Linked DNA regions of Homo sapiens: region 1 is linked to region 2. Evidence: fine-mapped expression QTL. A gene starts in region 2. The other region holds a variant in brackets. All regions are shown on one strand. Distances are between the middles of the regions. Region 1 has its middle 100 kb from the start of ASF1A. Region 2 holds the start of CEP85L (centrosomal protein 85L).

The links. PIP is the estimated chance that this variant, and not a neighbour inherited with it, causes the effect.
Region 1: its variant is fine-mapped to the expression of CEP85L in monocytes after LPS (Quach 2016, PIP 0.95).

What each region holds. Positions count from the first base shown.
Region 1 is chr6:118,789,706-118,795,231 of GRCh38, reverse strand. No RefSeq gene overlaps it. Among named protein-coding and RNA genes, the nearest start is that of ASF1A, 100 kb to the left of the region's middle. The variant A/G (reference allele first, on the strand shown) is at 3,078.
Region 2 is chr6:118,649,553-118,654,552 of GRCh38, reverse strand. It overlaps CEP85L (centrosomal protein 85L), which reads left to right and starts at 2,962. Exons shown (of 13, transcript NM_001042475.3): 1 at 2,962-3,356. The coding sequence starts at 3,284. RefSeq lists silencers at 2,609-3,068, 3,269-3,578.

The sequences.
Region 1 (5,526 bases), 140 kb before region 2:
AGAATCCTGTTGGAGATGAAATCAAAAATTATTATGACTTTGGTGCCTTGTTCTTCAGGAGCTGGGCACACAAATGACTTCAGTAGTCTATATAATTGGGGAGAAGACAAGCCCCTTGAAGCATCTACTATGTTAGCATGTACTACGCCGGACAGTGAGGTTCAGAAATGAACACATGAGGCTTCTGCCCCCAGGGAACTCAGTGTGTTAGGAGAGATGAATCAATGATATAGCAATTCCATTAGAAAAAGTGCTAGAGATGTGTGGAGGGTATGATGGGGTCACCAAGGAGGAATACATACCTGTTTAGCTAAGACAGAGATGTTTTCTAGTTTGTTCTTGCTGCTATACCAAAGCATTCACAGACTGGGTAATTTATAAATAATTGAAATGTATTTCTCATAGTTCTGGAGCCTGGGAAGTCCAAGATCAAGGCTCCAGCAGATTCAGTGTCTAGAGAGGGCTTGCTTGCTGCTTCCAAAATGGCACCTTCTTCCTGCCTCTTCATATGGAGAAAGGAACAAATGCTGTGTCCTCATGTGGCAGAGAGTGGAAGGGGAGAAAGTGCCAGGCAGCTCTCTGAAGCCTCCTTTATAAGGACATTAATCCCATTTGTGAGGGCAGAGCTTTCGTAACTTAATCACTTCCCAAAAGGTCTCACCTCTGAATACTATCACATTGGGTACTAGGTTTCAACATGAATTTTGGAGAGACATAAACATTCAAACTATAGCAGACACTGAATGAGCAAGGCTTTGGAGAGAGGGACGTGATGCTTGAGTTGAGTCTTGAAAGAAGTGTAAAAGTATATTAGACAAAAGCAGAGGAGCCCAGAGAAAGAGGAGGTATTTCCCTGTGCAAGAGCAAAGGCCTGAAGGAGAGATTCAGCATGGTGTGTGTATTGGTCAGGGTTCTTTAGAGGGACAGAACTAATGGAATATATATATATATATATATATATAAAAATAAAGGGGAGTTTATTAAGTATTAACTCACATGATCACAAGGTCCCACAATAGGCCATCTGCAGGCTGAGGAGCAAGGAGAGCCAGTCTGAGTCCCAACACTGAAGAACACGGAGTCCAGTGTTCTAGGGCAGGGGGCATCCAGCACGGGAGAAAGATGTACGCTGGGAAGCTAGACCAGTCTCTCTCTTCACATTTTTCTGCCTGCTTTTTATTCTAGCCATGCTAGCAGCTGATTAGATTGTGCTCACCCAGATTAAGGATGGGTCTGCCTTTCCTAGCCCACTGACTCAAATGTTAATCTCCTTTGGCAACACCCTCACAGACACGCCCAGGATAAAAACTTTGTATCCTTGAATCCAATCAGGTTGACGCTCAGTATTAACCATTACAGCGTGTGTGGGATTAAGCAGTTTTGTGCTGCTAGAACCACCATGTTCCTGGTGAAGGATAAGGGAGTTGTCATGAGTAGTAGGCTCTGAGTACAGGGCTTGTGTGCAGAGGTCGAGATTGGGAAGAGCTGCCTATGAGTCTGGGATGTGGTGTGGACCAGGGATATGAAGAAAGATTCAGTGGTGCAGAGGGCTCAGGAGAGGCTAAATGCTGTGATATCTTTATGGAAACTGCCTACATGATTATCAGATTTTCTCCAGAAATACTCAGCTACTAGTATATACCAGTACAGAATAACGCTGGTCCAGAATTAGGTTTTCATTGTAAAAATAAAGGCAGGCATCTGAATTTGGAGAACCTGATCTTGGACCAGGTTTGCTCAGAAAGAACTAGGCCCACAATTGAAAGCTGCCTCTGGTTCAGATGGGGGAGAAGAGGTAGGGGTTGGCTGAGAAGGCTGGCAGGGTAGAGTCTCGACTGAAATCTGCCACGTATGGCCCACAATCCATTTCATGCCCTAACACAAGGGGTATTATAAGTTTTGAGTATAAAAGAAAATTATGGGCCGGGCGCAATGGCTCACACCTGTAATCCCAACACTTTGGGAGGCCGAGGCGGGCGGATTACCTGAGGTCAGGAGTTCAAGATCAGCCTGGGCAACATGGTGAAACCCTGTCTCTACTAAAAATACAAAATTAGCCGGGCTTGGTGACACATGCCTGTAATCCCAGCTACTTGGGAGGCTGAGGCAGGAGAATCGCTTGAAACTGGGAGGCAGAGGATGCGGTGAGCCGAGATCACGCCATTGCACTCCAGCCTGGGCAACAAGAGTAAATCTCTGTCTCACCAAAAAAGAAAAAAAGAAAATTGTGATTATAAAATACAATTTTAAAATAGACATCTCAATTCACCTCACCACACATATAAAGATACGTTTTACATTTTTATGGCGTGTCAACACACTATTCACTTCCCTTATGAGGGGAATGCATAAGCACCCTTTAAGCATTTTAAGGGAAAAGCTTGAAATTATTGTAATAAACAGAGGGCTTTCGTGTAAAAAGCATTTATTTGATCTTCACAAAAGCTCCCTGCAGAAGGTATCATTATGAACCCATTTTAAAGAAAGGGGAACCGAAGGGCAGAAAAGAAAACTTGCCCAAGATTACATAGGTGAGAAGCGGGTTAGGGTCTGACACATATGATCTGACTCCAGAGAAGGTGCCCCTAACGATGCATTCCATTGTCTCTCCTTGGAAATCTCACCTCCTCTTCATCATTATGCAATGAATTTTGTCCCCCTGCTATAGTTGGGATGTTTGTCCCACCCAGATCTCATGTTGGATTGTAATCCCCAGTGTTGGAGGTGGGGCCTGGTGGAAGGTGTTTGGGTCATGGGGGCAGATTCCTTGTGGCTTGGTGCTGTCCCCACGATGGTGAGTTATCATGAGATCTGATTGTTGAAAAGCGTGTGGCTCCTCCCTCCCCTTGCTCTCCCCATGTGGCATGCTGCTTCACCTCTGCCATGAATGAAAGCTCCCTGAGGCTTCCCCAGAAGCCAAGCAGATGCCTGTGCCATGCTTCCTAAACAGCCCGCAGAACTGTGAGCCAATTAACTCTCTTTTCTTTATAAATTACCCAGCCTCATGTATTCCTTTATAGCAATGCAAGAATGGTCTAACAACTCCCTCCTTCCCCGCCACTTCCCTAAATTAATAC[A/G]TTGAAGTCCTAACCCCCAGTACCTCAGAATGTGACTGCATTTGGAGATAGGGTCTTTACAGAGGAATTAAAGTGAGGTCATTAGGGTGGGCCCTGATCTAATATGACTGGTGTCTTTATGAGAATAGGAGATTTGGCACAGACACCTACAGAGGAAAGACTATGTGGTATGGTTTGGCTGTGTCCCCACCCAAATCTCACCTTGAACTGTAGCTCCCACAATTCCCATGTGATGTGGGATGGACCCAGTGGGAGGTAATTGAATCATGGGGGCGGTCTTTCCTGTGCTGTTCTCTTGATGGTGAATAAGTCTTATGAGATGTGATGGTTTTATAAAGAGGAGCTCCCCTGCACAAGTTCTCTGTTCCCTGCTGCCAAGTAAGATGTAACTTGCTCCTCCTTGCCCTCTGCCGTGATTGTGAGGCCTCCCCAGCAATGTGAAACTGTGAGTCAATTAAACCTCTTTCCTTTATAATCACCCAGTCTTGGGTATGTCTTTATTAGGCATGTGAGAACAGACTAATACACAATGCGAAGACACAGGAAGAAGACAGCAATTGTAAGCCAAGGCGAGGGGCCTAGAGCAGCTCTTTCCCTCGCAGCCCTCAAAAGGAGTGATCCCTGCCAACACCTTGATCTCAGACTTCTAGCGTCCCAGCCCGTGAGAAAATGAATTTCTGGAGGTGAAGCTTCCCAGGCTGTAGTACTTTATTATGGCAGGCCTAGAAAACGAATTCATTCACAGACCCCCAGTTAAGAAGAAGCAGGAGGAGGAGGCAAAAAACAAATTACTCTTTTAAGTGAATTCATCTCATGTTAAAATATAAAATATGTGAGAATGTGTGCATTTCATTAGATATGGGGAGCTTAATTGAATCATCTTTTAAAAGAAATAATCGGAATTTAGTTCTATAATAAGAGTAAAATCAAGAAAGCAGGAAAAGTCTGAATTTATATTGATGTAGTACCCTTGAAGTAGTATCATAGACCGGAAACAGCAGCTTCATTAAGGCCAAAGTGTGTTTGTTAATTAGCTGTGGTCCTCTCCAGTGAGCCGACCAATAGATGCCATCAATGATGAGAGAGCATGGACTTATTGACGAAAAGATGAAGTCAGTTGGGCATTAGACACACATGTTTCCTCCGAGGGCGGCAGTACTTTCATTAATAATGAATTCTGTCTTTCCTTATGTCTTCTGAGCTTCCCACTAATGCTGGAATTATTAGTGTGAAACATGAGGCCTTCCGGTAATTATAGGCAATTCAGAGAGTCTTAAAAAGTGTGATCATGTATTCCAGGGAAAAACAATGTCCAGCATTTTTTTTTAAATAAATTTCAACTCGTGTGTTTAGTACCTTCTACATGCAAGGTGGTGAAGTGCTGGCTCTGGAGGCTTTATTGTGTTTAGGATTCTGAAAGTGCTTATGGCCTGAGGCCCTGAAGAGGTCTGTATTCTGGCCTTTTATTTTATTTTTTTGAGACATTCTGACTCTGTCACCCAGGCTGGAGGGCAGTGGTGCCATCTTGGCTCAGTGCACCCTCCCAGGTTCAAGTGATTCTCCTGCTTCAGCCTCCCGCGTAGCTGGGACTACAGGCTTGTGCCACCACACCCAGCTAATATTTTGTATTTTTAGTAGAGATGGGGTTTCCATATGTTGGTCAGGCTGGTCTTGAACTCCTGGCCTCAAGTGATCTGCCTGCCTCAGCCTCCCAAAATTCTGGGATTACAGGAGTGAGCCACCATACTTGGCCTGTATTCTGACCATTTAAAGAGAAAAATAAATTAGGGAACATCCCAGTCGTGGGTCTGAATCATTTTAACATTTAAATGCCTTGTTTGTAGATTTGAAAGAAAATCAAACTTTGACCAGCTTGTCACTTTTTGGCTTCCTGTTCCATGCTTTATAGAGCCATATGTTTCATGTTTGAAAAAGTTTAAAATCAGTCAGCTTAATTAAATGTTTCATTTTCACAGACGTTTTAGTCTCCTTTCTCTCTATACCCAGGAGCTCGTGCTCTCATTTTACCAGCTCATTTCTTATGAGCTCAGAGGGGCTAAACATACTGTGTAGACTAACATAGGATCGACATGATGTAGGGGAATTTTAACATTTTTAGAGACAATAGACAGTGGCTGGCACTCAATCCAACTTTCAATAAATGAATGGAAAGAAAAGGATGGGCAGAGAATTGCTTGAATCCAGGAGGCAGAGGTTGCAGTAAGCCGAGATTGTGCCACTGCACTCCAGCCTGGGCAACCCAGCCAGACTCTGTCTCAAAAAAAAAAACAAAAAAAAAAAAAAAAAAAAAAACCTGTCACATTTTTCACACCAAAAACAAAAACACCAAAATCACATCAACAAGAAGTAAACCTTGTTCTACAAGCCACCAAACCAACACAAACCTGATGCTTTTGGATAATGAATCTTGTCTGTCAATAAAACCGCA
Region 2 (5,000 bases):
AAGAGGTTGTATAGCATGGTCCTTGATACACACTTGATATACAAGAATTGTCTAGTCCTTGGAATCTTTTAGAATTCATTCATAAATCTCTTTCTATGTAGTAGCAATAGTTCTTTAGGAACTATTTCAATTGTTATTGGTTGGTTTACTTTTCCTACATATTGTTGGGTTCTTTTGCTATTTATATATTTTATATTTTTGTAAATATAAAGCTCTCTTGAGCTTTCCTCATATTATGCATGGGGTTTCCTTCTCATTTTATTTATTTTTTAGAGGCAGGGTTTTGCTCTGTTGCCCAGGCTTGAGTGCGGTGGCACAATCATTACAGCTCACTACAGCCTCCAACTCCTGGGCTTAAGTGATTCTCCTGCCTTGGTCTCTCAAAGCACTGGATTACAGGCATGAGTGACTGCACCTGGCTCTTCTAATTTAAAAATATCACTTTTATTCATTGTCATATCCCTCTTCAGTTCTGTAGATGATGTTTGCACAATCTGATAAATTTGAATCAGAAAAACACATGTAAGATAGCTCAACTTAATCAGTTCAAAGATTTATATACAAATTTAAGAATTATAAATGCAACACTTATTTTTCAGTTTTAAATAATGTCTTTTTTTGAAATGAGACATTTTAAACAAATAGTTTAATATAGTTTGGTATTAAATGTGGCATTTTTAGTACTATTTTCTTCTTTTGTGATCTAGTTTATATTCTTAAAAAGTCCCCTCCCAAAACATTAAATATCCTAATTTCATCTGAGCAATGATACTTATACACACACACACACACACACACACACATACACAGAGTCACTATTTTCATTACTTATATCTGCACAGAACAACTGCCAAGATTGAGGTTTATTGAGGTTCAACGATAACTGTCTTTGCTTTTAAAATTCTCCTTGTAGTCCTAACACACTGTCACAACAAAACAAAAATATGGCAGTTTACCACATGGGGTTTAGTAATGGTTAGATAGTCCTTAGGTTCTCCAACTTGTGTTATGATAAATTTTAATCATTCTGAAAACCATGGCTGTATCATACCATGTACATATCATCCATGTATCATGGATTTGGGGGGAAGCATTAGTTCAGTATATACTCAGAATTCATATGATTAAAAGAAATGGATACTTTAGCAACATAATATTCTCACTTAGTATTTCAATTAGTTCTAATTGCATTAGCCCTCTATCCTCCCAAGTTTAATTACTAGGGACACAAAAATTTCATATTTGGTGCCAAGTGCCAAAAGAGCAACATGTTTTTACTGTTTGCTTTTACTCTGTAATAGATATTGAAATATTTTAGATACTTTCACCTTCGCATGTACTTTTTTTGTGTGTAGTAGCATGCCCTTTATATTGATAAAAAGATGTAGAAAACCCGAGTAAACGATTTTCTTTAAACACTGTTTAGAATTAGGAAATTGGCAGTTTTGAAATAATAAGTGTATTTTAAACTCGCAAAGGCCAAGATATTTCTGTAATATTTTATACACTTCTTAGAACTGCATCACAAATGAATTTCAAAAATTCTGTTCCTGAGACTGTGGTAACTACAAAGCATGAAAAAAAAATCTATACATAGTGCTATAGCTTCTGCTAATTTTCTTTTTGGGACTTAAAAAAATCTATCCTCTTCAAGTGTTAGATAAAACGAGCTAGTGCACATTAAAATAATAAAAAGGAACCAATCACATTCGTCTTTCATGTTTCTGTATCTTTTTATCATCAGAAACAGCTGACCCTTGGCTAACATTACATGATTTGGAGAAATAATTGGAAGTCTACCACAGGGAGACTAAATGTAAAACTCCAATCAGATAAATTACAACACGGATGTGGTAAGTGATAGAACACACACCTAAATCTAATTTAACTTCCAAGAATTTTAAGTAGTATTTCCCAATTAAAATGTCTTTAAGGGAAAAATGCAAATATGAGGCCTTTGTTAGCAAGATTCCAGAACAGGAAAAGCGGAACTCAAAGCCTCTCTAGTTAAGCGACCTGCGTTCCGACTTACCTCTGAGTGATGGGCCTACTGCAGAGCCCGCCTCCCACCACAGTGCTGGCCCAGAATTTTTTATACGAACTAGTTCGTAACTAAACGTTGGAAGCATCACCATATTGCCAGTGAGAAGTAAGATTTAAAAATAAAACGATGCTGTCCCTTTTCGCCCTTCCTTAGGACGTCTCCTCCTGCACTAAGGGTTCAGGTGAAGGGTGGAAACTGGCCAAGAAGAGGAAGAACGTGAAGGAGTAGGGGGCAAGGAGGAAAGGGCTCCCTTTACAGACTTTGGTGCCATTTTTACTTTCTGCTTGCTAATCTGAAACGTTGTGCGATTACAATGACGGCCCCTCTCCCCCTCGGGTACTAATTACCCCCGGGCCTTTTCCGGTGCACATCCCGGTGCTATATTCTGGTGCCTGTGTTGCCCCCACGCCCCCATTAAATTAGTAAAGGAAAACCACCCCTTTTCTGCCCCTAAAGTAATCTATAAACGAAGGAATACAGATGAGGATTTAAATCCCAATCCTAATTCCAAGGGAGGCTGGAAGCCCCCTCAGCCGCGCCCTGGCTTGGCTTTTTCATCTCGAGCGGTTGTGACGCCAGGGGCAGGTCTTCCACGTGTCTTCACAGAGGTGCCCGGAGGGAGGGCGTGAGGGATTACCCAAGGGAGGGGCGAGTATCGCAAAATAGGCCAAGTCGCTGCCCTCTACTCAACTCGCAGGGCGGGAGGATGGAGACAGAGGGATGCGGCGGGAGGGCGGGACAGCCCAGTCGCCGCCAAGGAGGCGAAGCGGGGTCGGGGTAGCTCACCCGCCCCCCGCAGTCCCCGCCCCCCGCAGTCCCCGCCCCGCGCGGCGCCGCGCACGCCTGAAGTCATTGCCCGAGGCCCCGCCCCCTCGCGGCCCCAGCCCCGGCTCTGGCTCTGCCGGCGGAGGGGGCGGAGAGAACCCGCAGCTGCAACTTCGCCTGGAGCCTTTGAGCCTGGGCTCAGCCGGGGATCTAGCAGCCGTCACCGCCGAGTCGCCGCTTCCCCGGCGCGGGCCTCAGCCCAGCCGGCTTGGCCATGGCAGGCGCCGGCAGTGCGGCGAATCTGGCCCCTGCGCTCCCCGCCCGTAGCTGAGCAGCCGTTAACCAGCCATCCCGCCTTTCCTCCTGCCCGTGTCGCCGAGGCCCACGCTCCGCGCAAGTTTCCGCCGCCGAAGAAGCAGGAGGACGGACGTGAGGAGTCGGGCGTCCCTGGCCCACCCGGCCCTCTCGCCCGCGATGTGGGGGCGCTTCCTGGCTCCGGAGGCCAGCGGCCGGGATAGCCCCGGCGGAGCCCGCAGCTTCCCTGCCGGTAAGGAACGGGACAGCGCCCCGGCTGGGGTGGGGGTCACGGCCGACCGCGGCGCCTCGGGACCTCGCCGCCGCTCCCCTCCCGCCTCAGGCCTGTCTTACCCCGGCCGCCTCCCCGACGCCGCCGCGTGCCCAGTGTCCTCCCCGCTGTCAGCACCCGGGCTGACATATGGCTTGCCGCGTCCCAGGCGCATCAGCCCCGCATCCCGTCGTCCCCGCCGCTCCTCCTTGGGCTGCAGCCCCAGCGCCCCCAACTTCCAGCTCGCTTGGGCCCCCGCGGGTTGGGCTTTATTGTCTGCCCGGTTTTTTCCTTTTACTCGTGGGGTGTGTGACCTGCGTGATAACGGGGCTTGCCCGTTTGCTCGCGGGGACCCGGGCGGGAAGGTCGCTGCGACAGTGCTGCGGCGGCGGCCCGGGCGCGTCTCGGAGGGGCCGCAGTTCCGCGCCCTCCCGACTTCTGGTAGGCGCAGGCTGGGGTTGGCTGTGCCCACGCCCGCAGCCGCTACTTTTAGGGCGCGTTTTCGGGAGGGAGGATGCTGCCAGAGATGCGGCCGCTCTCAGCCACCCCCAAGGGAACTTCAGCCCCTCGGAGGAACCTGGTCGCCGCCCCGCAGCCCCTGCGGCGTAAGAGGAGGGCGCGTCCTGCAGTAGCCAATGGACCATTGAGCAACCGGGTTACGAATCCGTTTGGCTTTCCGTGGCCCCTTCAAGGAAAATTAGGGGTTTGCTGCATTCCGTATCTGAAGGGGTCTGTTTGTATCGGACAGCCATTTCATGCTTGCGTCGCTCAGAAGTTGTGTAGGAGCCACAAAATTAGGATAAATCCTCCCCTAACTTGGGATAAAAAATAAGTCTTGGGTTGCCTGTGATATGTTCTCTAAAGATGATGGTCTTTCCAGGCACTTTTAATCTTGAGTTTTGAGGCCTTTTGAGAAACTGAGTTATATGGACATTCTGCGCAGAAAAAACAATGCCATATATACATACGCAAAATTTTCCCTACAATTTTAGCTGTTTCTGGGACTCCTGTTAAGTAACCTTGCTCCACAAAGTGTTTGAGCTCGACTTGTGTAACTTAGAGATATTTTTGCATACATTTCCAAAGCTGTTATTTACAAAACAAAAAAGCAGAAGCAGCATTTGGAAAGGGGTCTTTTGATGGTAATATTTTCTGCTATTTAAAAAAAATCAGGCACTGACCGAGTCACTAGTATCAGGCTATTGAAATTTCGAATAATGCAATTCTTTGATAGTTTAGATATTTGTGATGTGTGGTTTTTAAAAAGACATATGTACATTTTAAAAAGCCAGAGTTAGATTTGAATCATTCACTTAAGTTTGGTCCTGAAACACTTAATGTATGTTAATGAATGATTTGAATCATTCACTTAAGTTTGATCCTGAAATTTAATGTAGGCATGAATTTAGTAAAAAGCAGTATTAAGTAGGGATTTTTTTTTTCTAAATTGTATGTTATTTGTCCTAAGGAGACAGTTCAGAGGTTTCCCGAGTTTACAGATTATTCACAAATCCTGTCATCTAAGTAACTTCAGTGATTGAGAAGCTACTTCATTATCCCTAGGGGCTGGAGGGAGTGGTTTCAGTTTATCTGAAAATGTCAAAAGCCATCTGTAATGTCTTTGCA